Regions from separate parts of the Homo sapiens genome. Here region 2 is linked to region 1. The links come from fine-mapping of genetic effects on gene expression. A gene starts in region 1. The other region holds a variant in brackets. All regions are shown on one strand. Distances are between the middles of the regions. Region 1 holds the start of TNC (tenascin C). Region 2 has its middle 280 kb from the start of DELEC1.

Evidence for each region. PIP is the estimated chance that this variant, and not a neighbour inherited with it, causes the effect.
Region 2: its variant is the best candidate, but not a certain one, in a credible set for the expression of TNC in fibroblasts (GTEx, PIP 0.65).

Annotation. Positions count from the first base shown.
Region 1 is chr9:115,116,483-115,120,878 of GRCh38, forward strand. It overlaps TNC (tenascin C), which reads right to left and starts at 1,675. Exons shown (of 28, transcript NM_002160.4): 1 at 1,500-1,675. The region is part of intron 2 of LOC124902255 (a long non-coding RNA gene); the gene reads left to right. It overlaps LOC101928748 (a long non-coding RNA gene), which reads right to left. Exons shown (of 6, transcript NR_110950.1): 6 at 3,057-3,226. RefSeq lists an enhancer at 1,954-2,773.
Region 2 is chr9:115,421,971-115,426,366 of GRCh38, forward strand. No RefSeq gene overlaps it. Among named protein-coding and RNA genes, the nearest start is that of DELEC1, 280 kb to the left of the region's middle. The variant C/T (reference allele first, on the strand shown) is at 1,833.

The DNA of each region.
Region 1 (4,396 bases):
AATTGGGCTTGCCTGGCTGGGATGGATAGTAGTTTTCCTTTCTAAAACACATATGGGAAAGCTCTGTAAAAATGGGGGAAAAAGTCTACAAAAACATGAAAAAGAGGCATTCATTCTTCAAGTGGTGCTCCCTGTCCTGCCCTCCCTCCGGACAGAAAGCTTTTCCAAAGAGTTTCCAACAGCATCGTACTTCATAGCTGTCAGCTTTAGAATCTGCAGATGCCTAAACTCAAAACCTCCTGACATTCTGGAATCAAAATTTGACATTAACTTCCAGCCCCGGGCTACTACCTTTTCTCCAACCTGTGCCAACACAACCTCCTGCTTGTAAAATACAGCCAAGTCTCAGACCTGCCAGCCTAGTGAGACACCCTCAGATTGGGTGAGATAAAAAGCGGGGGCTGGGGGCGGGCTGAGGAACAACACACAAGAAACAATCCAAGACTGGCTCAATGCCTCTTTTAACTTCCAGAGTGATGGCAGTTTTTGGCAATGACAATGATTATCCAAACTTCCAGTTATTAAGCAGTCATTGCTGATCTTTCTATACCTCATTTTCTCCTCAAAACGACAGCAGACGCTATTGTCCCCATTTTAGAGATGTGAAAACTGAGGATTAAGGAAGTGATGTATCTTTCTCAGGGTCATATGTATGGTGGTGGGGAGAATACCAAACACCTCTGGCTTCAAACCTAAGCTCTTATTCCTCTTACAACACTGATGGGTGAGAAGAACCCCTGTGTTCTTTCCAAAGTACACCAGGGGCAGCAGGGTTCCCATACCTGGGGGATGTTGTTGCTCAGATCTTTCTGTGATGAGAGGTGAGGAGGAGGAGGTGATTCTAGAGACATGTGGGACGCTGCTGGCTCTAGGCACCCCAGTAAAGCTGTTCTCCACCACTCTCTAGCTGCCTGTCAGTTATTCATCTGGCCCAGGAGCCACCTCCTCTCTTCTGTCCCCCAGCTCTCATTTCCAGGGTGAATATTTTGAGGACCAAATGAGGGAATGGGTACAAAACTCTTTGTAAACTTTATGTAAGTGCTGTTTAGATATAAACTTTTATATTCTCCCTGCACTCCTCTATCAAACTCCCTCTAACCCATCCCAGGGGCAGGCTATGAGCAAAGTCTGCCTTAAAACTCTACTGCCCTAACCCTCAAAATAAAAGATATATACAGGTGAATCAGCCAGACTAGAAGTAGGAGAGCAGTTGAAGAGAAAATTTTTACTTTTCCTCTGCAGAACAGCAGAAGATAACAACTTTACGAAAAGTTCCTTCCAAGTCTGACTATTCATAAAGTTAAAACAAACAAAATTACAAGACCAGAAAAGTCAAGGTGCATCTGATATAACCAATACACACTCCTTTTTTTTCCAGCGGTGGAAAAAAAAACCCCATATGTTTTGTAATTATAATATAAAATCACAACTCATTTGGTACCAGGAATGCAATCCTTACATCATAAGGATCTCTAGTGATGAGGGCAAAACAGACTTACCTTTCCGATGGGCGAGAGACCTAGGTCCTTGGAAGAAGTACCTGGAGTGTGGAGCTGCGGCGGTTCCCACGTGCGCGTTCCCCCGAGTTCCCCAGCAGCGCTGCCTTTGTGCCCACGGAGGCGGGGGCGTGTATCTGCGCGCGGGAGAGGCGGGTGACAGTAGGCAGGCTGTGGCCGGTGCAGCCAACTTTGGCTGGCTTATATAGCGAGCTCCTTCCTCTGTAATGGGACGCCTCGCCTCCAGACATCCTTTCCCACTTTTTCAGTTGGCGAATTAAAGGAACAGCCCTCCCAGCGGAACAGGGTTAGCTCATGAAAGACGCACTCACTCCTGGCTCTCGGCCAGGGAAGGAACCCATTTGCATACAATTTATGGCGAAAGTAGGAATTCCCGCCTGCCCGCCCCCGACCCCGAGTAGCTGTTAGTGAAATGTGATTTTTGCTTTGCTCCCCACACGGGTTTTCTAATTGTGAGACGGATGCCTGGGGAGCAAGAGGGAGTAGGATCCGCAGCCCTGGCTCCCCTCTTGTACTTGGTCAAGCTGGAAATGGGACCAGGGCTCGCCTGGGCTCTGGGCAGCAGCTGCTCAGTGGCACCTCGGAGCGAGTACAGGGACTGAGCCCAGTTCCTGGAAAGAGGAGATAAAGCCCTTCAAAAGCCTGGGGGGTTTCAGGTTTCTCTGGGCCAGCGGAGAGATAACCCAGGATTAGGTCTCAGCAGGTGGGGATCGTGCGGGACGCTCACATCAGCCCTGCTTTTCTTGTGTGGGAGCCAGCCTTGCCCAGCTGCTGGGAGGCATCTTTGTTCCAGCCCCAGTGTCCTGCAGGGCAGTAGCTTTTTGACATTGTTCATGCCCTGTGCCTGGTGTGGTCTTCTCAGCTGGGTCTCCAGGGGGAAGGATTTCTGAGGTTTTCTCTTAGTGCTGAAAGGCGTCCCCCACAGCCCTTTCTTTAAAGAAAAGCAATAATTTAAAAAGGTAACAACCTAATCCTTGAGCCATAAGCTGCGCCTTTGCTTTCCAGCCTGCCGTGGATTTCCTCCAAGCTCTGAGTCATCCGTTCGTTTGGTGGTTAGCATGCATTGAGTATCCTCAGGGCATACAGGGGCATTTAAGGGAGTGGAGAAGTAGCACTTCACCCGTGCCTAGAGACTTCTGAGCCTGCCGCAGAGCATAGTAGTTTGTGACAGTGAAGTAAAATGAAGCATTAAATGTAATTCAAAACGCAACTACCATTGAGCCCTCCCTTATTAAGTCTATAATCAGGTGCTGTGCAGGGTACTTTATGAACACTATTTTTGTTCACTATTTTTATTATATCCTTGTAACCAGTAAGTAGGATAGACACAAGTGTCTCTTTTTTACACAAGAAAACTGACGTTTAGAGAAGTAATGAAACTTTACCAAGGGAATACACCTGGGAAGTGTTTATATTACAACACTGGGCTCCAGAGATCTATTACACGTTACTGTTTAGGAATAGGGTATGATGATATTTAAACAATGTTTTATGCTGTATTAGATTGTTAACACCATTTGTGTAGAAATCACAGCCATATTTGAATATGGAAAATATATTTATTTGCTCCATAAAGCTAATTAGGAGAGATCTTTGATTTTTAAAAATTAACTACTAATAATGGAGGTCTCAATTATCCACTTATTTTCAATATTAAATGATATCATCCCCACAGTTATTATTGTTGCTGTGGGCCTCAGTTTCCCCATCTGAAAAAAAAAGCAAGACACGATTAGGTCATCCTACGGTTGCTTTGGCTGTAGTATTTTAGGATTCTCTGCTAAAGTGACCCTCCCAGACAGCAAGAAAGCCCATAAATAGTCATGTCATAAAACCGCTCATTTGAACTTTTGATCCATTTTGGCTGATTCAAATGTTGGTTGTTTGGGAAGTTTTAAATTCTGTGCTTTAGCCAAAGGATATTTCAGTAGCATGAAGCTGTGTCTCAACCAGCAGTGAGTGGTTCCTACTGAGTTAATCTCTTGGGTTAGGGATTAAAATATTAGAATAGTGTACAATATATGTCATATGGTATATAAACTATATTTGTATAGAACATATAATCAATATATTTATAATTCTATGTGAGTTTTTAAATAAGACAAGAGCGCATGCTAGAAAACTAGATAGATATGGCTTTTTCGGGGAATGTCTCAAACTCGAACTCCTCTCCCCAGTTCTTTAGGATTCTACAATCGTTGATTAGTGTCTACCACAAGTGGTATGGTCAATCACAGGGAAACTAAGCCAAATATGACCAGGCTGGCCCTCAAAGCAGGAAAAGGCTAGCAGAGGTGACAAACAAGAATACTATTATGGGTTAAGTTAACAACTATCATATAAGTGTATTCTGATAACATAGAGAAGAGATGATTTATGCATTTTTAGGAGAGGCTACTTGTAAAAGGCATTTTCTCCAAAAAGCTATGTGGCATCTTAAGCTTTTTGGCATTTGAGTAAGGAGTGCCCAGACGAGGACGTGTTTTCCATCCCTGTACTGTTCGCAGCCTCTGTTTCTGGTAGATGGGTCCATATGCACCAGGTACTCTACAATACCCAAACTTTGTTCATGCTAGGATGATGCCCTAGGCTCCTCACCTCCATGCCCTCACATCTATTTATCATCCATTTCTGATCTGACTTCACTATGGAGCTTCCTAAATGGAAGAAATCCATCTAGGAAGAGATGTTTCTATGCACTATGGCATTTGTAACTCTATTAGGACATCCATTGCATCTACATGGTATAATTACACATGTGCATGTCTAGATTTTCCTCCTAGATGCTAGGCTTCCTGAGGCTGGTGATCACACTTGCTTTTTCTGTACCTGGCATAGAGCCTTGGGTATCATAGAAGCTCAGTAAATGTTTATAGAAT
Region 2 (4,396 bases), 310 kb after region 1:
ATTTTATGTTATCTGCTGGCTTATGACTGCAGACTAAAAAACATTTCTGTTCAAATCATTTGACTATTGCTAGAAGGACGGACCAGTAGGGTTGAATTTTAATATTATAATTACTAAATGAATGCACTATTCATTTGTAATGATCACCCATATAATGAGCAATTAACACAGTAACAACATAAACCTTGTACACTAAAATTATGATAACATACTAAATGTTTATAAATACTATCTTAAATTTTAACTATTGCCCTAATAATTTTGTAATTAGGGTTCTAATATCTTTCTGTTAGCACCCTAACAATTTGCGTTTTCATAACACTTTTTCCTGTTAAACTAGTCTAGGCCCCCAATAGTTGCTTTATGGCTATTTTTTTTCTTAAATAACATGATTTTAACATCCTGTACCATTCTGATTTCTCTTTGGTGCATTTCCTAATTTGTCACTGATTCTCTTAAATACATCGATCAAAATTGACAAGACTTCAAGTGCAATAAAATGTTTATCTCCTACTACTGATGAATTGTGTTCCCCACAGAATTTATATGTTGAAGCTCTAACCCCCACTGTTACAGTATTTATAGATTAGGCCTTTGGGAGATAATTAGATTTAGATGAGGTCATAAGAGTGGGGAATAATTTAGTGCTCTTATAAGAAGAGACACCAGAGAACTTGCTCATTCTCTCTCACAATCATATGAAAACACAGTGGGAAGGTGCAAGAAAGGAAAAAAGCCCTCATCATCAACTGACTATGTTGGCATCTCAGACTTCCAGCCTCCAAAACCTTAAGAAAATAAATTTCTGTTGTTTTAGCCACCCAGTTTTTTGTTATGGCAGCCTGAGCAGTCTAAGACACCTCCCTTCGCACTTCCCATGCAGTGTCTGGCATAATGCTTGGCTTCCATGGAGTGATTGATAGACTTGTCCTTAGGATGCCAGCCTTAGGGGACCATTCTTAGTTTGCCCAGAATCGACATAAACTGATGGGCCTAGGAGGCCCCTCAACTGCATGCCAGATTCTCCCACTGTTGGTCTGGATTTCTGGGTTTCCAGTGCCTGCCTACCCATTCCAGCCTTGGGGAGCCAACAGCTTCTTGGGGAAGACATCACATTCATGAATAATATGACAAGCATCTGAGTTGGCAGCAAGGGGTGGCAGAATTTTCTTAGGGTTGAGGCCAAGGCTGACAGATTTCCTGCTTTCATTCAGCTCCTAGAGGCCCAACAAATTCACGTGGCCATGTCTGGTGCTCCGGGACTCACGGTGGGAAGACTTAGAGAAAGCTGGGTAATATTCTCCTCTGCAGCTGCTGGATATCCTCCACAGTTTATTCATTCTTACAACTCCCTCATGAAGGACTGATGAATACCTGCTGACACACAGTAGTGCTGCCCGCAAGAACAGTAGAGCAGCGTAAGTGAGTCTCTTCAATTTCCTCACCCCAAAAATGAGGGCAATGGTAATAAAAATATTGCTCAAGATTTCCAACAGTAAATCTCTCAGGCCATGTAATTAGAGCTACCATCACTAGGCACTGTTCTAAGAACTCTTGACATACTGTTTCTTATGAAGCCTACAGTGCTATCAGCAAGACGGTCATGCTCATTTTACAGGTGAAGAAACTGAGGATAGGAGGATTTATTGACTTGCATGAGTTCACAAAGCTAGTTAGTGTAAAATTTCTTTCCCAGTGCTTGATGCATAGCAAACACTCAATCTGCATGTATGAATCTATAAAAGTACCAGATTTTGGTTTTTAATTCAAGTTGACTACAAAGCCTATGTTTCTAACCATTGCATCGTATTGCTTAACTGTAAACTATAGAG[C/T]GCTGTTCATCTGTAATGAGCATTTGGTCATTGGTTCTGATTCCAAAACTGATCACCCTATGAGTCAAATCCCAGCGGACCTTCTGAACTTTATATCCTATCTATTTATATATTTTGTGAGTTACAGATCTGGGGCAGGCTTCTGTGTGGGGCAAAAGTAAAAGAAATATTAGTGCTGACACTATGTTTGAGAATATTATCCCACAGAAGAGGGAGGAGAGTAGGAAAAAATAAAATTCAATGAAAAAGCTTAATAATAGCCTGTCTAGCCTGCTCTTATGCTGCTATAAGGAAATACCCAAGACTGGGTAATTTGTTAAAAAAAAAAAAAGGTTTAATTGACTCATAGTTCAGTGTGGCTGGGGAGGGAGGCCTCAGGAAACTTACAATCATGGCACAAGGCAAAGGGGAAATAAGGCACTTTCTTCACAAGGCAGCAGGAAGAAGTGCTGAGTGAAGGTGGTGAGATCCCCTTATAAAACCATCAGATCTCATGAGAACTCACTCACTATCACAATAACAACATGGGGGAAACTGCCCCCATGATTCAATTACCTCCACCTGGTCTCTCCCTTGAAATGTGGGGATTATGGGAATTACAACTTAAGACGAGATTTGGGTGGGGACTAATCATAAAATTCCGCCCCTGGCACCTCCCAAATAACATGTCCCTTTTACATTTCAAAACCAATCATGCCTTCCCAACAGTCCCCCAAAGTCTTAATTCATTTCAGCATTAACTAAAAACTCCATGTCTAAAGTATCCTCTGAGACAAGTCCCTTCCTCCTATGAGCCTGTAAAATCAAAATCAAGTTAGTTACTTTCTAGATACAATGGGGGTACAGGCATTGGGTAAATACAATAATTCCAAATCGGCCAACATGAAGGTGCTGCAGGCCTCATGCAAGTCTAAAATCCAGCAGGGCAGTCAAATCTTAAAGCTCCAAAATGATCTCCTTTGACTTCATGTCTCACATCCAGGTCACACTGATGCAAAAGGTGGGCTCCCACAGCTTTGCACAGCTCCATCCCGTGGCTTTGCTCGAAGCTGCTGTCACAAGTTGGCATTTAGTGTCTGCAGCTTTTCCAGGTGCACAGTGCAAGCTGTCAGTGGATCTACCCTTCTGGGGTCTGGAGGACTGTTGCCTTCTTCTCACAGCTCCAGCAGGGAGTGCCCTAGTGGGGACTCTGTGTGGGGGCTTCAACCCCACATTTCCCTTCTGCACTGCCCTAGCAGAGGATCTCCATGAGTGCTCCAACCCTGCAGCCAACTTCTGCCTGGATATCTAGGCATTTCCATACATCCTCTGAAATCTAGGTGGAGGCTCCTATACCTCAATTCTTAACCTCTGTGCACCCACAGTCCCAAAACCATGTGTAAGCTGCCAAGACTTGGGGCTTGTACCCTCTGAAACAATGTCCTGAGCTGTATGTTGGCCCCTTTTAGCCAAGGCTGGGACACAGGGCACCAAGTCCTGAGACTGCACAAAGCAACAAGGTGCTGGGTATAGCTGGAGAAACTGTTTTTGCTTCCTAGGCCTCTGGGCCTCTGATGGGAGGGGCTGCCATGAAGACCTCTGACATGCCCTGTGGAAACGTTTTCCCCGTTATCTTGGTGATTAACATTTGTCTTCCCATTATTCAAATTTCTGTAGCCAGCTTGAATTTCTTCCCAGAAAATGGGTTTTTCTTTTTCATCAAGCCATTAGGCTGCCAATTTTTCACTTTTATGTTCTGCTTCCCTTTTAGACGTAAGTTCCAATTTTAAACAATCTCTCTGTGAATGCATAAAACTGAATGCTTTTAAGAGTACCCAGGTCACATGTTGAATGCTTTGCTATAATACTTAAAAAATTTCTTCTGCCAAATATCATAAACATGTCTCTCAAGTTCAAAGTTTCTCAGATTTCTAAGGCAGGGGCAAAATGCCACCAGTGTCTTTGCTAAAAGATAGCAAGAGTCACCTTTGCTCCAGTTCCCATGAACTTCCTCATCTCCATCTGAGACTATCTTAACCTGGACTTTATTGCCCATATCATTATCAGCAGTTAGGTCAAAGTCATTCAAAAAGTCTCTAGGAAGTTCCAAACTTTCCCACATCTTCCTGTCTTCTGAGCACTCAAACTGTTCCAACTTCTGCCCATTACCCAGTTCAAAAGTTGCTTCCACATTCTCAGGTATCTTATAGCAATGCTCTACTACCTCAGTACGAATTTACTGTATTAATCCGTTTTTACATTGCTATAAAAAATACCCAAGACTGGGTAATTTATAAAGGAAAGAGGTTTAATTGACTCACAGTTCAGCATGGCTGGGGAGGCCTCAGGACACTTACAATCATGGCAGAAGGTGAAGAGGAAGCAAGGCACCTTCTTCACAAGGTGGCAGGAAGGAGAAGTGCTGAGCAAAGGTGGGAAGAGCTCCTTATAAAACCATTAGATCTCGTGAGAACTCACTATCATGAGAACAGCTTGGGGGAAACCACTCCCATGATTCAATTACCTCCACCTGCTCTCTCCATTGTCACATGGAGATTAAGAAGATTACAATTCAGGATGACATT